Linked DNA regions of Homo sapiens. The protein of the gene in region 1 purifies or fractionates together with the protein of each later gene. This does not show direct contact. Each region holds a gene or a part of one and is shown on either strand. Other genes may lie near its edges.

What was found. Proteins that work in one complex are often made in the same cells at the same time.
Region 2: the proteins of CIAO3 (region 1) and WDFY1 purify together in Homo sapiens (affinity purification with mass spectrometry; 2 studies listed by BioGRID and IntAct, with this or other methods). This does not show direct contact.

What each region holds. Positions count from the first base shown.
Region 1 is NC_000016.10:730,796-738,003, forward strand, and holds part of CIAO3 (cytosolic iron-sulfur assembly component 3), read right to left. Parts: intron 6,535-7,208; coding exon 6,391-6,534; intron 5,604-6,390; coding exon 5,471-5,603; intron 4,077-5,470; coding exon 3,942-4,076; intron 3,553-3,941; coding exon 3,434-3,552; intron 2,633-3,433; coding exon 2,503-2,632; intron 1,579-2,502; coding exon 1,506-1,578; intron 908-1,505; coding exon 770-907; intron 206-769; coding exon 48-205; intron 1-47.
Region 2 is NC_000002.12:223,942,275-223,950,282, reverse strand, and holds the start of WDFY1 (WD repeat and FYVE domain-containing protein 1), read left to right. Parts: upstream 1-4,947; 5' UTR 4,948-4,998; coding exon 4,999-5,135; intron 5,136-5,727; exon of another isoform or gene 5,728-5,804; intron 5,805-5,875; exon of another isoform or gene 5,876-7,059; intron 7,060-8,008. UniProt on the Homo sapiens protein: Positively regulates TLR3- and TLR4-mediated signaling pathways by bridging the interaction between TLR3 or TLR4 and TICAM1.

The DNA.
Region 1 (7,208 bases):
TCTGCTCCCAGAAGGGGTCCTCGTGTCCTGTCCCTTGCAGGAGCTACCTGAGGGGCAGGCCATGACCTCCACGTAGTGGTAGGGGCAGCGCCCTCGTTTGAGCCTCTGCACCAGGTTCTGGATGTTGCGGAAGCCGTACGCCATTGCGAAGTGCAGCAGCACCTGGCCCTCCTTCTCCAGTGTCACCTCCTGGAAGTCTTTGTTCCTGGGGGGCACAGGCGGGGTTTGTCTACATGGCACACCCACCAGGCTCCTGCCTGCCTGGAAGGGGAGGCCTGCTGGGCTTCAGGGGATGACCGGGTACCTCCCAGGGCTCTCTCCCTCTCTCCTGGGCAGAGGGAAGGACAAGAACGGAGAGAGAGGGTGGAAGGCTCACTTCCTTGAGTCCAGCAGGGGACCTCACCTCCAGCCTCGGGCTGTCTGTGAAACAGGCCTCCCTCCCCAGGGATGTCTGTGAGGCCCTGGCCCTCCCTCCTGGGATGTGGTCGCGTGCCTGCGCCAGGCACCCATCACCTTTGCCCATGCTGGCCTCTCGGGCTCAGGGTCACCATCCCCCACAATGGGCCGACTGAGGCCTGGAGTGCTTAGGTGCCTTCACACCCTGAGCCCGCCAGGAGGGCCCTGCCTGGCCCCAGGGTCCCCTCCAAACCCTGCAGGCTGCCCTCCACCCAGCCCACCTCTGTGGGAGGACCCCAGGGGAGGCAGCAGCCCGAGGAAGGCTGGGGGCTGTGTGGCCGCTCTGCCCAGAGATCTGGCCCATCCCACTGACCTCAGGGGTTTGTAGGTAACCTCAGCCACATGGATTCCAAAGAGCTCTCGGGCCGCGTGCCGGAACACGTGCTCCAGGTAGCCCCCCGAGCCCCCTCCCCGATGGCTGGTGGGCTCCTCTGCAGAGGCACCGCTGCACCTGGCAAGGAGGGAGGGGCCTCAGCACAGCTGGGGCTGCTGCCTGCCAACCTCCCGAGCAGGGCCTCTGTCCCTCACACATGAGCGTTTGCATTTCCAGGTGGGAGACAAGTCACAGACACAGAGGAACAGCTCCTGTGTCACCAGCCATCACAGGGGCCCAGCCACTTCTTGTTTTTTTTTTTGAGACGGAGTCTTGCTCTGTCGCCCAGGCTGGAGTGCAGTGGCGTGATCTTGGCTCACTGCAAGCTCCGCCTCCTGGGTTCAAGCAATTCTCATGCCTCAACCTCCCAAGTAGCTGGGATTACAGGGCCTGGCATGGATTACCACCATGTCTGGCTAAATTTTGTATTTTTAGTAGAGATGAGGTTTCACCATGTTGGCCGAGCTGGTCTCGAACTCCTGACCTCAGGTGATCTGCCCACCTTGGCCTCCCAAAGTGCTGGGGTGACAGGCGTGAGCTACTGCGCCTGGCTATCCAGCCACTTCTGTGGACGCCAAGATGGGCTGCGGGGAGGCAAGCCCAGAGCAGGGGGATGCTATCCTCAGAGGCAGCGTTAGAAGCTAAAATAACAGTTCTTGGTGGCAGACATACGTACAGGCTGTCCAGAGGGGCTGGTTCCAGGTCGGGGAGGGAGACGCCCTCTTCCTCCAGCAACCTGAAAACTTCTCCTGCAAAGAAGCCACAGCGCAGACACTCTTTAGCGGAGATCCCAGCAACAAAGTCAGAGAACATCCAAGCCACCTGCATCCCCAGCAGTCTGCACTTTGGCCCCAGAAGGCCCCAAATGTCCACCCTAGCCCGTGGTGGGGAGGCCAGGCCCGGTCACTCCTGAAGCCCCTCTGGAGGCTGCCTGGTCCTGCCCAGGGAGGTGTGCCAGCGGCCAGGCCACTCTGCTCACCCAGTGTCCATCTGTCCATCCTCTTAGGCAGTCTGCTTTTCTTTTTTTTTTGAGACGGAGTCTCACTCTGCCGCCCAGGCTGGAGTGCAATGGTACGATCTCGGCTCACTACGACCTCTGCCCCCCGGGATCAAGTGACTCTCCTGCCTCAGCCTCCCGAGTAGCTGGGATTACAGGAGCACCACCACTACTCCCGGCTAATTTTCGTATTTTTAGTAGACATGGGGTTTCATCATCTCGGCCAGGCTGGTCTTGAACTCCTGACCTCGTGATCCACCCACCTCTGCCTCCCAAAGTGCTGGGATTACAGGCGTGAGCCACCATGCCCGGCCACAGTTTGCTTTTCTGCCTCACATTTGGGAGACTGTGGGGCTGCTCGACTCAGGAATGGGGTGACTCATGGGAGCTGAAGAGGCTGCATTCGAGAATCTCTGCCCACCTCCAAAGACTCATTTCAGAGCCAACAAGGAGGTATTACTGAGCGCCACCTGGCTGCAGGTCCCCAAGACAGGCCAGCTGCAAATGGGCCCACCTGGCTCCAAGGGGAGAGACGAAGGTACGTGCACGCATGCGAGCCCCCACACTCCAGCCAGGGCCCCCACAGGCAGGATCCTGGGCAGTCGCCACCTGTGCCCAGGGCTCAGGAATCAGACCAGGAGGCTTGAGGGCTCAGGGCCGCACGGCGTGACCGCACCTGTTGTGAGGACACAGTCCACATCCCGTGTCTGGTGCTCCTGGTTGAAAAAGTCGGGTCTGGAGGCTTCCAGCTTTTTGTCATAGCAGGGCATCACTGTGACGTGGTAGATCTTGTCAGGGGTCAAGTGCTACAAGGAGAAACAAACACTTGTCTCCCCAATCCCAGCAGTAAGGTGGCTGAGACGGGACCTGGAACTCAGCCATCCTGCAGCCAGGCCGGACCCCGAGGGACAGTGAGCCTCACTCCATTTCCCAGCAAGCCTCCTGCCGGCTCTGCGGATGTGTCCCTGGACAGGACGGGCCCTGGCTGTGACAGAAAATGACACTGACCCATTCCCAGTGTGCCTGCGCTCCCTAACAGCCAAGTCCAGCGGAGGAGAAGTGGCCTTCCCACGGCTCGGGCCGTCTCACTGCACAGCAGCCGGGGAAACGGATGTCACGGGGGAACCAACCAGCTCCAGCCCCGGGTGAAAATCCGCGTGCAGTCAGGCAAGAGGTGCCGCAGGGGACATGGGCGCTCGAGGCCCAGGCACCACCGGGGCCGCCCTCGCCCTCTCCCGCCCCCTGCTGGCTGAGTGTCTTCAGGCTTCTATCCCGCTGGGCCTCAGGTGGGGGTCGTGCTGGGCATCCTCGTGGACCTGGTGGCCGGAGGGGTGGGCTCCAGGCCCGGACTGCCCAGGGCCTCCTGCTCCCTCAGCCTCAGGCCTGGCTGCCTCTGGGTGAGCAGTGAGCACCTCTGGATCAGAACGAAGCCCTCTGCTGCAGAAGAGGAAGGGCCTGAACCAGGAGGGAACAAGGGTGGAGGTGTGCTGGGGAAGGCCGCACAGCACAGCGAGGACTCTGTTTCCTGCAGCCTCATGGCAAGAGGCCAGCAAAGTCACTTCTGGCCGCTCCCCAGCCTGAGTCTGGGGCTGGCCCAACGCCGTTACCTGCTGCTGGGCGAAGAAGTCCTTGACCAGGGAGCCCATGACCTGCTGCGGGGACCGGGCGGTGCTGATGTGGGGGAGGATGAAGCTGCCGTGAGTCTTCTCGGCATAGCAGATCCAGCCTGAGGTGACAGGGGGCACACGGGGCTGGCGGGGGCGCACGGCGGCCCCCGCACCCACAGGCAGCAGCACGACATTCTGGGGGCGGGCCCGCTCATACAGGAGATCATGATGACATTAAAGAGTGCTCATTCCTGTTCTCCCCACCACCACGCGGAGCTCGGCGTGCAGGCGACACCGCCTAGGGACCTGAGGTGACTGCGCGTGGCTCCCACGGGAGGGCAGCCTCTTCTCCAGAAAAGGCCATTTGTGCCAACATTTCCAACCCGTCCCGCAAAACCTGCTTGCGTCTCCACCCCCCATGCCCCCGCCTTGTCATTTGTGTCCATATCACCTCACGTTTCAACTGCACTTGAACTTGACTCTCCCACCACCCGCACCATGAGCACACCTGGGCAGGCAGAGGCCAGCAGGGGCAGCGCCTGTCTGCAGTCGGCCTGTCCTCGGAATCGCCGCACAAACTCTCGCTGGCTCTCCAGGAGGCTGAAGTGCCTTGAGAAGGCGGTGTCGAAGACGAAGTGCACCCCTGGAAGGTGAAGGTGGGTGCCTGGTTAACCCCATGCGGGACGCCCACACGAGCACACGCCGGCGTGTGGACCACCATGGTGCTGCCAGGGCACGTGTGTCGCACCTGCTTGCCGTGCCAAAGCCCCGGCCCCACCGTGGGGACCTCCTAAAGCCACGTTGCGCCAAAGCCCCAGCCCCACTGTGGGGACCTCCTAAAGCCACGTTGCCTCGGCATCCCCTGTGAACCCAGGCCTTGGTTTCCCACCCCAGAGGCAGCCACCCAGCAGCTCAGTCCTCCACCCTCCCAGCTCTTCAGCGTGGCTGGTCCAGGGAATTGCCACGTGCGCTGCTCCCGGTGACCCTCCCTAGGGCACAGCTGGACGCAGCCTGCTGGACTGGCCCCTCGGACCCTGACTGTGCAGACCTACCATAGTGGCCACCCCTCACACACAGCAGGACTCCTGGAACACGCCAGCCAGCTCCAAGCCCAGCCATTAGAACTGCTCAGTAAACCTGCCTGATCGTGCCCTGGACCCAGCAGAGGCACCCGCGTGTGGGTCCCTCTCTCTCTGCCTGACTTGTCATTCCTCCCTCGCGTAACCCGTGGTCGGAGGACTCGCTGTGCCCCACTTGCCCGTCATCATCATCTCTAAGTAAAAATCTTTGAACTTGCTTCCTATTCTGGTGGGGACGAAATCCACACCTTCCATCTGGAGAACCATGGGCTGCCCCAGGCCAGGTTTTCCCTGGGACACCAGGTCAGGCTCCCAGTGCCAGAGCACTGCTCAGGCACCAACTGGATATGGGTCAGACAGGAGCCATGGGGCACCTGCCAGTGTCACCAGGTTTCCAGTGTGAGGGACCTGGGACACAGCTGGATGACAGGCAGTCTGCTGGTTACAAGGCGCACAGGCCTGCCTCACTGGGAATGAAGGGACTGGACATGGTGGTTACCTGTGAAAGGCACACAGTAACCATGAGGTCCAGCCCCTTCATTCCCAGTGAGACACCAGGCACTGGAGCCTAGTTAGCTGGGGGCTCTCAAGACACCCAGATCCTCCCCAAGCCCAGCTCCAGGCACATAACCAAAGTCAGCAGAAGCTGACCTTGGCTGAACCCAACAGAGCCCCGGAGAGAGTGCCTTAATATTATCAGCTAAAAAGTACAAGGAGTTGGTCAGCCCCAGCTTAGAGAAAGTGCACAGTCAGAATGCAGACGTGTTCTGTGAGAAGGCCCTGCTCTCAAATGTCAAATCAAAACTTCAGGCTGAGGTCACAGAGGGAATAAAGTTTCTGTAGCGCTGAAGTTCAGGGCTGGGTAGCGTGTCAGTGACTCAGAGGCGCGAGGGGCCTGGGCTTACTCAGACGCCCCCTTGATTTGGAGCGGCAGTGTTACCCCAGGTTCAAAGCCTACCTATTTTTTTAAAGAATGAGGTTAATTTCCTGGCAGTATCTGTAGGATTCAGCTGAAACCGTGCAGCCAGCGATGCTCTAGACTGTGGTGAGACCGAAACTACAACCAGCCTCTGCTGACTGGGTGCCGCCATCTGCAAAGCAAGGGGAAGACGCTGCTTACTCTGCTGGCCTTATGCTGATTCCTGGTGGCCAGAGCCGCACGGTGAGATGCTGTCAGCTGTGGAGAGGGCAGGCCAGCTCCATCAAGAGTCTTTTTTTTTTTTTTAACACAGAGTCTCACTCTGTTGCCCAGGCTGGAGTGCAGTGGTGCGATCGGAGCTCACTGCATGCAACCTCCGCCTCCCAGGTTCAGCCTCCTGGGTAGATGGGATTACAGGCGTGAACCACCGTGCCTGGCCAAGGGTATCGTTTTTTTTTGATGGAGTCTCACTCTATCACCAGGCTGGTGTGTAATGGCGCAATCTCGGCTCACTGCAACCTCTGTCTCCTGGGTTCAAGCGATTCTCCTGCCTCAGCCTCTCTAGTAGCTTGGATTACAGGCATGTGCCACCACACCTGGCTAATTCTTGTATTTTTAGTAGAGACGGGGTTTCACCATGTTGGCCACGGTGGTCTCGAACTCCTGACCTCAGGTGATCCACCCGGCTCAGCCTCCCAAAGTGCTGGTATGACAGGCGTGAGCCCCCGCGCCCAGTAGGGGTGTCATTTTGATGTATATTTAGAACCTGAAGTTTGGGGCCTGACACGTTCACCACTGGAGCCCACTGACAAATCACCAAGATTCCAAGCCTCAAAAAGGCAGGCGCCACCCGCACGACGGACGTCGGCACCACACGAGCTGCCCTTGGCAAAACGCGTTGTCGGCTGCTGGGATGGATTTCAGGTTAAAGCAGAGTCACCAGGCCGACCACTGCTTACCTTGTTAGCATCTAGAACCTTCTTCAGCTCCTCGTGGCTCTGCTGGGTGATAAGCACGGTCTCTGCGGAGGTGATGCAGCCGCTGCACGCCAGGCAGTCGTTTAGCGAGACCTTGGCCTTCTCCAGCCTCCGGGTCCCGCCGTCCTACAAGGGAGAAGAACCCGGTGCACAGGGGCCCCCTCTGCACGAGGACATGGAGACAGAGGATAGTGGAGTCCAGCTCATAACCGACAACCAACATGGCTGCTGGCTGGGCTTGTGTGCCGCTGAATTTTTAAAAATTAGGTATGTATTACAAAAATGCACACGCACGCTCTACAGTTTCATAATGCCGTCAAGTCTGCTTCTTGGTACCACTTGGTTAGTGCATCCGAATCACAGGACTAAGGCTTGCCACTGGTATCTCAGCAAAGCAGCAGCCACCCCACTCACCCATGGGGCCCTGGACGGGGTGCTGGCCCCGGTGCACACTCACAGGGCTGTAGGGCAGGAAAATGCCGAAGGTGGGCTCTGAAAGGAGGAGGCGGGAAAGCTGAGGACAAAGGAGGAAAGGACGAAGGCACAGGAAGAGGAGAGCAGAGGGAGGAAGCCTGGGAGCCTGGCCTCCGGTGGGCGGGGCAGAAACAACCGTCAGACTCGCCAAACAGATGCAGGAACAAGGTGTTCCAGTCGGGGGCCTCCGGGACATGCCTCAGCAACTTTTCTTACATGCAAAACGCACCCAGCTCGAGCTCCCCCAACTTCTCCTGCAAAGGCAGGAATGGTTTGAGCAGGGCCAGGGGTGCTGCAGTGGCCCGGAATACAGCCAGAGGAGTAAG
Region 2 (8,008 bases), on another chromosome or scaffold:
TCCTGACTGAAAAAAAAAAAAAAAAAGAGGGCTGGGCACAGTGGTTCACGCCTGTAATCCTCACAATTTGGGATGCTGAAGCTGATGGATCACTTAAGGCCAGGAGTTCGAGACCAGCCTGGCCAACATGGTAAAACCCCACATCTGCTAAAAATACAAAAATTACCAGGGCATGATCGGCACACACCTGTAGTTCTAGCTACTCAGGAGGCTGAGGCACAAGAGTTGCTTGAACCGGGGAGGCAGAGGTTGCAGTGAGCTGAGATCCCAGCAGTACACTGAAGTCTGGGTGACAGAGTAGTAACACTCTGTCTCAAGAAAAAAAAAAAAAAGGTAAACCAAGGCACAATAATATTTTAAAGGGCTTATTTGTGTAAACAGCAATTCATGAATCGGACAGCTCTAAACCGGAAGTGTTTCCAGGGCTCTGTTGGAGAAGCATAAGGGTCAAACTTGGAAGAGTGAATGCAGAAATAATGCAAAGAAAATAATTGATTACAGTTATAAAGTGGCTTTATTTGGTCTATCCTGTGGGAAAATCCCTAGTTATTTAATTGTAAGTCTGTTGACTGCTTCTGAATGGTTGAGCTTAAGTTTTGTTTTTCTTTAATACAGGCATTTACAAGAAATAGTTCAAGTTAAGTTTCACTTATGTTTGCAAATCAAGCAAGGTTAAGATCACTTAGGAGGACTGACTGGCTTTGTCTCTTCGGGGAGTCTTCAGCCCTGGTTTCCATTTTAATTTAGTTTAACAGGCGAATCCCTGATTAAAATTTTTGAACAAGTATTTGTAGAGGGCCTTTCTCTCACTTAGTTTTGACCATCCTGCTGCCTTAAGATCAAGCATAAACTTGGCTCCTGAACTCTACCACCACCCAGTGAGCATCTGCTGACCCTGCAGAGGGTGGCACAGCAGGTTCCATCACTGTGCATTTAACTCCCAGAGTAATGGCTGCAGTCCAGACCTCTCTACTATTCAGTAGCATATACAAAACTCCTATATTCAGGCTGGTCATGGTGGCTCACGCCTGTAATCCCAGCACCTTGGGAGGCTGAGGCAGGTGGATCACCTGAGGTCAGGAGTTCGAAACCAGCCTGGCCAACATGGCAAAACCCCGTCTCTACTAAAAATACAAAAATTAGTCAGGCATAGTGGCACACGCCTGTAATCCCGGCTGCTGGGGAGGCTGAGACAGGATAATTGCTTCAACCAAGGAGGTGGAGGTTGCAGTGAGCCAAGATCGCACCACTGCACTCCAGCCTGGGCAACAGAGCAAGACTCCATCTCAAAAAAAAAACAAAAAAAACAAAAACAAACAAACAAACAAACAAAAACCTCCTGTATTCAACTGCCTACTCAGCCCCTTCACTTGGAGACCTAATACTCGTCTCAAGCTTCCTATGTCCAAAACTGAATTCTCCTTCTTCCCTTCCAAACCTGCTCCTCCTACATTTTCCACAGATCAGTAACTGGCAGCTCCACTTTTCCAGTTGCTCAGCCCACAAATCTTGGTATCATTCTTAACTATCTCATATTCAATATTCAACAAATTTCACTGGTACTACCTTCTACATAAGTCTAGAATCTGATGTCCTCTCACCACCAGCACCCTTAGAAAGCCACATCATTTCTCAATTACCCTGTTAATTTCTCAAATAACTTCCTGACTGACACCTTGCTTCTATTCTTGCCTTTTAAAATTGAAGGCAGATTAGCCCAGGCGCAGTGGCTCATGCCTATAATAATCCCAGCACTTTGGGAGGCCAAAGTGGGTGGATCACCTGGGGTTGGGAGTTCGAAACCAGCTTGGCCAACATGGTGACACCCTCTCTACTAAAAGTACAAAAATTAGCTGGGTGTGGTGGCACGTGCCTGTAGTCCCAGCTACTTGAGAAGCTGAGGCACGAGAATCACTTGAACCCAGGAGGTGGAGGTTGCAGTGAGCCAGGATCGCACCACTGCACTCCAGCCTGGACGACAGAGTGAGACTTCGTCTCGAAAAATAAATGAATACAAATTTAAAAACTTGAAGGCAGATTAAACCAGCCTTCTGTTCGAAACTCTCCAATGGCTTCCTATCTCATTTGAAGTAAAAACCAAAGCCCTTATCAATGGTCTCTGGGCTCAACATGGTCTGTCTGGTGACCTGTCTGTGCTGTTTTTCTCTGAGCACTCCCTCACTCACTCTGCTCCAGCCTCACGGGGTGCCTGGCTGTCTCTACAAAACCCCTGGCATGTGCTCACCTCAATGCCTTAACACGTGCTCTTTTCTTTTCCAGAAAAGTATTTGGCCCACATTTCCACATGGCTTACTCCCTCCTCTCCTTCTTGGCTCAAAATGTAACTTTACAATGAGGCTTTTACTTGTCTCAGGTTGCATTCTCCAGCAGCAGATACGGTGATAGAGGTTGGCTCAGAGGGTGTTTATTAGGAATCAATGCCTGTGAAGGGAGGGGGAGGTACCAGGATTAGGCAGGAGAAGTCAGCTGCAGTACACGCCTTACAAAGCCTTGTCCAATCTAGGAGAGAGTTCTAGAGCAAGTGTTGCTCATCGGTCTGTCTTGATGGTCAGGCCTTTATCCTCCTATCTTGTTCAGTTACTGAATGTGGGCTTCCCTGTGAAGGGAACAACTGAGACCCAGTGGTTCTCAGCAGCTGGGGCAGTCCCTGAAGGAGCTGAAGGCTAGAGGCTCTCTGCTGACCACTGTTCTTCCCTGAAAGCAGATCTGTGCAGTGTATTCCTGAATCTATCACACCATCTATTTAAAATCGCAACATCCCCTAGAGTCCCTATCACCCTTCCCTGCTTTATTTTCTCCATAGCATTTAATAGCATTGAACATCTTCTAATATATTATATAATTTAGTTTACTATCTGTTTCCTTCACTGGGATGTAAGTTCTAACAGCAGAGGGATTTTTGTCTCTCTTGAGCACTGCTGCATTTAGAATGGCACCTGGCTCACAGCAGGCACTTGGGAGATGTTGGTTGATTAAACAAAGTTGTTCAGTAGCGTGTCTAGTCATTACACTGTACAGCCTCACAAAAACCATGTCTTATTAATCTCATCAGCAACAGCATATAGTAAGTGTGCGATATATGTCTGTTGAATATAGGAATAAATAAATTCATGAATGTTTGTTAATAACTTCATCATGAGAAAGTATTAGTACAATGGTGGCTCCTGCCCGTAATCCCAGCATTTTGGGAGGCTGAGGTGGGCAGATGATTTGAGGGCAGAAGTTTGAGACCAGCCTGGTCAACATGGTGAAACCCTGTCTCTAGTAAAAATACAAAATTAGCCAGGCATGGTGGTAGGTGCTTGTAATCCCAGCTACTCGGGAAGCTGAGACAGGTGAATCCCTTTAACCTGGGAGGCGGAGGTTGCCGTAAACCGAGATCGCACCACTGCACTCCAGCCTGGGTGACGGAGTGAGTTCGTCTCAAAAAACTAAAACAAAACAAAACAAAAACAAAAAGAAAGTTCTAGTAAATCACTGTACATAGAAGTACCATCTGATTCACATCCATAATTTAAAGTTTTTATTAGCTACCTTAAAAAAATAAGCAGGTCATATTAATTTTAATAGTATCTAACTCAATATATCCAAAATAGTATCATTTCAACATGTAATCATTGTAACAATTATTGATGAACTATATTACATCTTTTTTGTTTTGTGCTAAGTCTATAAAATCTTGTAGTATTTTGCACTTGTACTACATCTCAGTTTGGACAAGCCACATTTCAAGTGCTCTATAGTCATGTGGATAGTACGGTTCTAATGCAATTCTGCAATTCAGGTGTCAGAATAATATAGTGGGGCAGAAGTTTGGAGTCATTGACTTCCTGAGTCCAAATTTTGGCTCTTGAACTTACTGGTTGTCAATGACCTCTAGCCAAAAACCACCAGGAACAAATGGGGTTGATTGCTTGTTGGAGGGAGAAGACACACCATTGGGAATGGTGAGGTGTCTGGGTAAAGGGATGTTCGGACAGTTTTATTATAGGATTTGTGTTTGTGTTAGGTGACCTGGGAGAGCTTAAGGAAGAGAGGCTCTCCTGTGGACTGGATGTTGTCAGGAAATGCGTATAATTCTAAGGTTGCATATCTTAATAAATCTTATCTAAATGGAGGAAGACTAGATAGCGGTTAACATTATAATTAATAAAGAAATAAGAGTCACTCATATTAGCCAGGATAGGGGGATGTTTGGTAATTTCTGTGGCTTGTACATCGCTCATATTTTGGCCGTGTTTAGATGTGATTATGGAGTGGCCTCGTCTGATGTTTATGTTCCACAGGAAGCAAACACTTCCTAGCAACACCAAAGCTCAGCTGATAGTACCAGGCAGCTCCTGGAGATCAAGGGCTGCTTTTCTCCCTCTCATAGCTGTGCAACCTTAAGGTAGTGATCAAACTTCTCTGGTTGTTTTCTCATCTCTAAAATGGGAATACAAGAGCATCTATTTCATCTCTTAAAATTATCAGTATTAAATGAGATGCAAAGACACTGAGTTAATGCCTGGTATATGGTCACCACTCAGTGCTATCTATTGTAGTTCAAAGATTCTAAGATGCACTATATTTTTTCACATTTTAACATTTCTGAAAGTGTGTGCCTTTCAAACAATGGCTTCTTCAAATGGATGAAATGTAGTATTGTAATTTCTGAAATCTCTGGTTTGGGGGACAATTCCTTGTCCCCTCCAGGTGCTCAATTTATTCCTGGGTGAATGGCTTTACTTTTAAACCTTCCTTACTTTCCCCATTTCTCCGCAGGCGCCCCGTGGCATCCTCTCCCAGCCACAGACTTTCAGCTTGCGCGGCATCCCCAGGCAATACGGGCGGTGCGGCGGCAGCACTCGGGGGCTTACGGCGGCGCGGCGCCCAAGAGGCCCCAGCAGCCGAAGGGAAACCGGCGCGTCCCCCGCCCGCCCAGGCGTCAGCTGATGGGCTGCCTGCCGAGGAGGCCGCAGCAGTCGCCGCGCGAACATGGCGGCCGAAATCCACTCCAGGCCGCAGAGCAGCCGCCCGGTGCTGCTGAGCAAGATCGAGGGGCACCAGGACGCCGTCACGGCCGCGCTGCTCATCCCCAAGGAGGACGGCGTGATCACGGCCAGCGAGGACAGGTAGGGCCCGGGCGCAGCCGGGGCGGCCCGAACTCCGCGACGACGGGGTGTGGGGGCGGTGGGGTCCGCGGCCCCGGTCCTTCCTGCGTGAGGGGGCTCCCCCGGCAGCACGGCCCCACCCCCACTCTGCGCCCCTTAGCTCCGCCGGGTTCCCGGTTCCCTCCCGCCGGTCCTCCAGCCTCGACTTGCACCTTTCCAGCCTGGGACCCCGGTCTCGCCGCGCCCCTCCAGCCCGGATCCCCTGTCCCACCGCGCCCCTCCAGCCCGGGAACTCCGTCTCACCGCGCCGCCCAAGCCCGGGACCCTTGTTCCAACGTGTCTTTCCAGCCCAGGACCCCTGTTCCAGTGCGCCCTACCGCGCCCCTCCCAGCCCACCTCGCCCCTCCTGCTCAGGACCCCTGTTCCAATGCTCCCCAACGCGCCCCTCCAGTCCGGGACCCTTGTCCCACTGCGCCCGTCCATCCCGGGAGCTCCGTCCCACCGCGCCCCTCTAGCCCGGATCTTCTGTCCCACTGCGCCCCTCCAGCCCGGGAACTCTGTCCCACCGCGCCACTCAAGCCCGGGACCCCGGTTCCAGTGCGCCCCAACGCACCTCTCCAGCCCAGGACCTCTGTCTCACCGCGCCCCTCCAGCGCGGGAACTCTGTCTCACCGCGCTGCTCAAGCCGGGGACCCCTGTTCCAGTGCGCACCAACGCGCCCCTCCCAGCCCACCGCGCTCCTCCAACCAGGGAACCCCGACCTGCGGTGTCGCACTAGCCTGGGACCTTCGTCCCGGTCTCTCTCCCTGGCGGGGTTTAGCCTGGTACTCGGAAGGTGTTTCTTGGCCCTCCCGGGTCAGTTCCAAATCGTCTCCTCTGGAAGCGTGGAGGACCGGCGGCTGGTCACTGCGGACCCTGGTGCCCGGGGCTTGCTTCTTTGCGAGGAACTCCAGCCGCCTTCGCTCTCTTCCTCCCCCTGTACTCAGGGATTTCACGCCACGCCAGGCCTCTAGATCAGTTATTTTTGCCACGGCTGCTAGAATCACCTGAACTCTTATTTACTAAATAGGTTTTTGTGAAAGTGACTCATTTTTAAAAATATTTGGATGCATTTATTTTAAAAGGAAATCTTATTTATTAGGAAAACTAACATTACTCACCAGACAGAGTAAACTAATAACTAAAACATGTTAATTGGCATGCACACAGAGTCCTCTCTTGCACTGTGACATCTTGCATTGGACGCCCACCATGCTTTTGGGAAACACTGATTGGGTCCAGTTTTCTCATTTCTCCTAAGAGGAAGCCGAGGCTGGTGGAGGTGTAGCTTGCTGCTAAGTTACAGAGATACTGGTGAAGCCGGAAATGCAATCCAGAACTCCCACCAGCTCTGGGCCTGAGTGATTGGATTGGAACAGTATTTATGATTCGACTTTAAACTTTAGCGTCTTTCAAATCCTAAAGGTTTACAATGTCAGTAGCTTTCCGGTGGGAATTTGAAGGAAATGACTGATGTTTATTGAATGAAACTGTGTTTCCTTGATGCAATGAGCCGTCTTAAATAGGGATAGTCCACAAGTCCAAAAGCTTTCTGGAGGATGGAAGGTACTGCTATTCTCTTAAAGCTGAAGGCGTGGTCTCTAGCCTTTTGTAATTATACCTTTTGAAGTGACATTGACCCTATCCTGAATGGGAAGAAAAAGCCTGAAGCCCCCAACTCCTGTTGGTCCTTTGGATTTTGCTTTTGAGTGAGCTTGTGCCTTTTTCCTCAATTAGATAATGAGCTGATTGTGAGCAGGCAGTGGCCTCTCCCTGCTGGTTCACCTGTAGCTGACTTCCAACAAGGAGGGGAGTGATTGGCAGGACCTGGCTGTGGGTCTGTAAAGCAGAAAGGAGTGAGAGAGATCGAGTGCATGAGACCTGGGGAGAAGGTGGGGACCTGAAAAAGGCAAGGACAGAATAATGACTTTTTTTTTTTTTTTTTAAGATGGAGGCTTGCTCTGTCACCCAGGCTGGATGGAGTGCAGTGGCATCATCTTGGCTCACTGCAACCTCCGCCTCCCAGGTTCAAGCGATTCTCCTGCCTCAACCTCCTGAGTAGCTGGGACTATAGGCGCCTGCCACCACGCCCAGCTAATTTTTCTATTTTTAGTAGAGACAGGGTTTCACCATGTTGGTCAGGATGGTCTCGATCTCCTGACCTCGTGATCCACCCGCCTTGGCCTCCCGAAGTGTTGGGATTACAAGCATGATCCACTGGTGTCCGGCCAGAATAATGACTCTTGCATGATGTGAACGTAGATGCAGACAACACTCTTTAAAAGTTAGCCTTTGGGCCGGGCGCGGTGGCTCACGCCTGTAATCCCAGCACTTTGGGAGGCCGAGGCGGGTGGATCATGAGGTCAGGAGATCGAGACCATCCTGGCTAACAAGGTGAAACCCCGTCTCTACTAAAAATACAAAAAATTAGCCGGGCGCGGTGGCGGGCGCCTGTAGTCCCAGCTACTGGGGAGGCTGAGGCAGGAGAATGGCGTGAACCCGGGAAGCGGAGCTTGCAGTGAGCCGAGATTGCGCCACTGCAGTCCGCAGTCCGGCCTGGGCGACAGAGCGAGACTCCGTCTCAAAAAAAAAAAAAAAAAAAGTTAGCCTTTGGCCAGGCGCAGTGGCTCATGCCTGTAATCCCAGCACTTTGGGAGGCCGAGGCGGGTGGATAACAAGGTCAGGAGGTCGAGACCATCCTGGCTAACACGGCGAAACCCAGTCTCTACTAAAAATTCAAAAATTAGCCAGGTGTGGTGGCAGGCGCCTGTAGTCCCAGCTACTCGGGAAGCTGAGGCAGGAGAATGGCGTGAACCTGGGAGGCAGAGCTTGCAGTGAGCCAAGATTGTGCCACT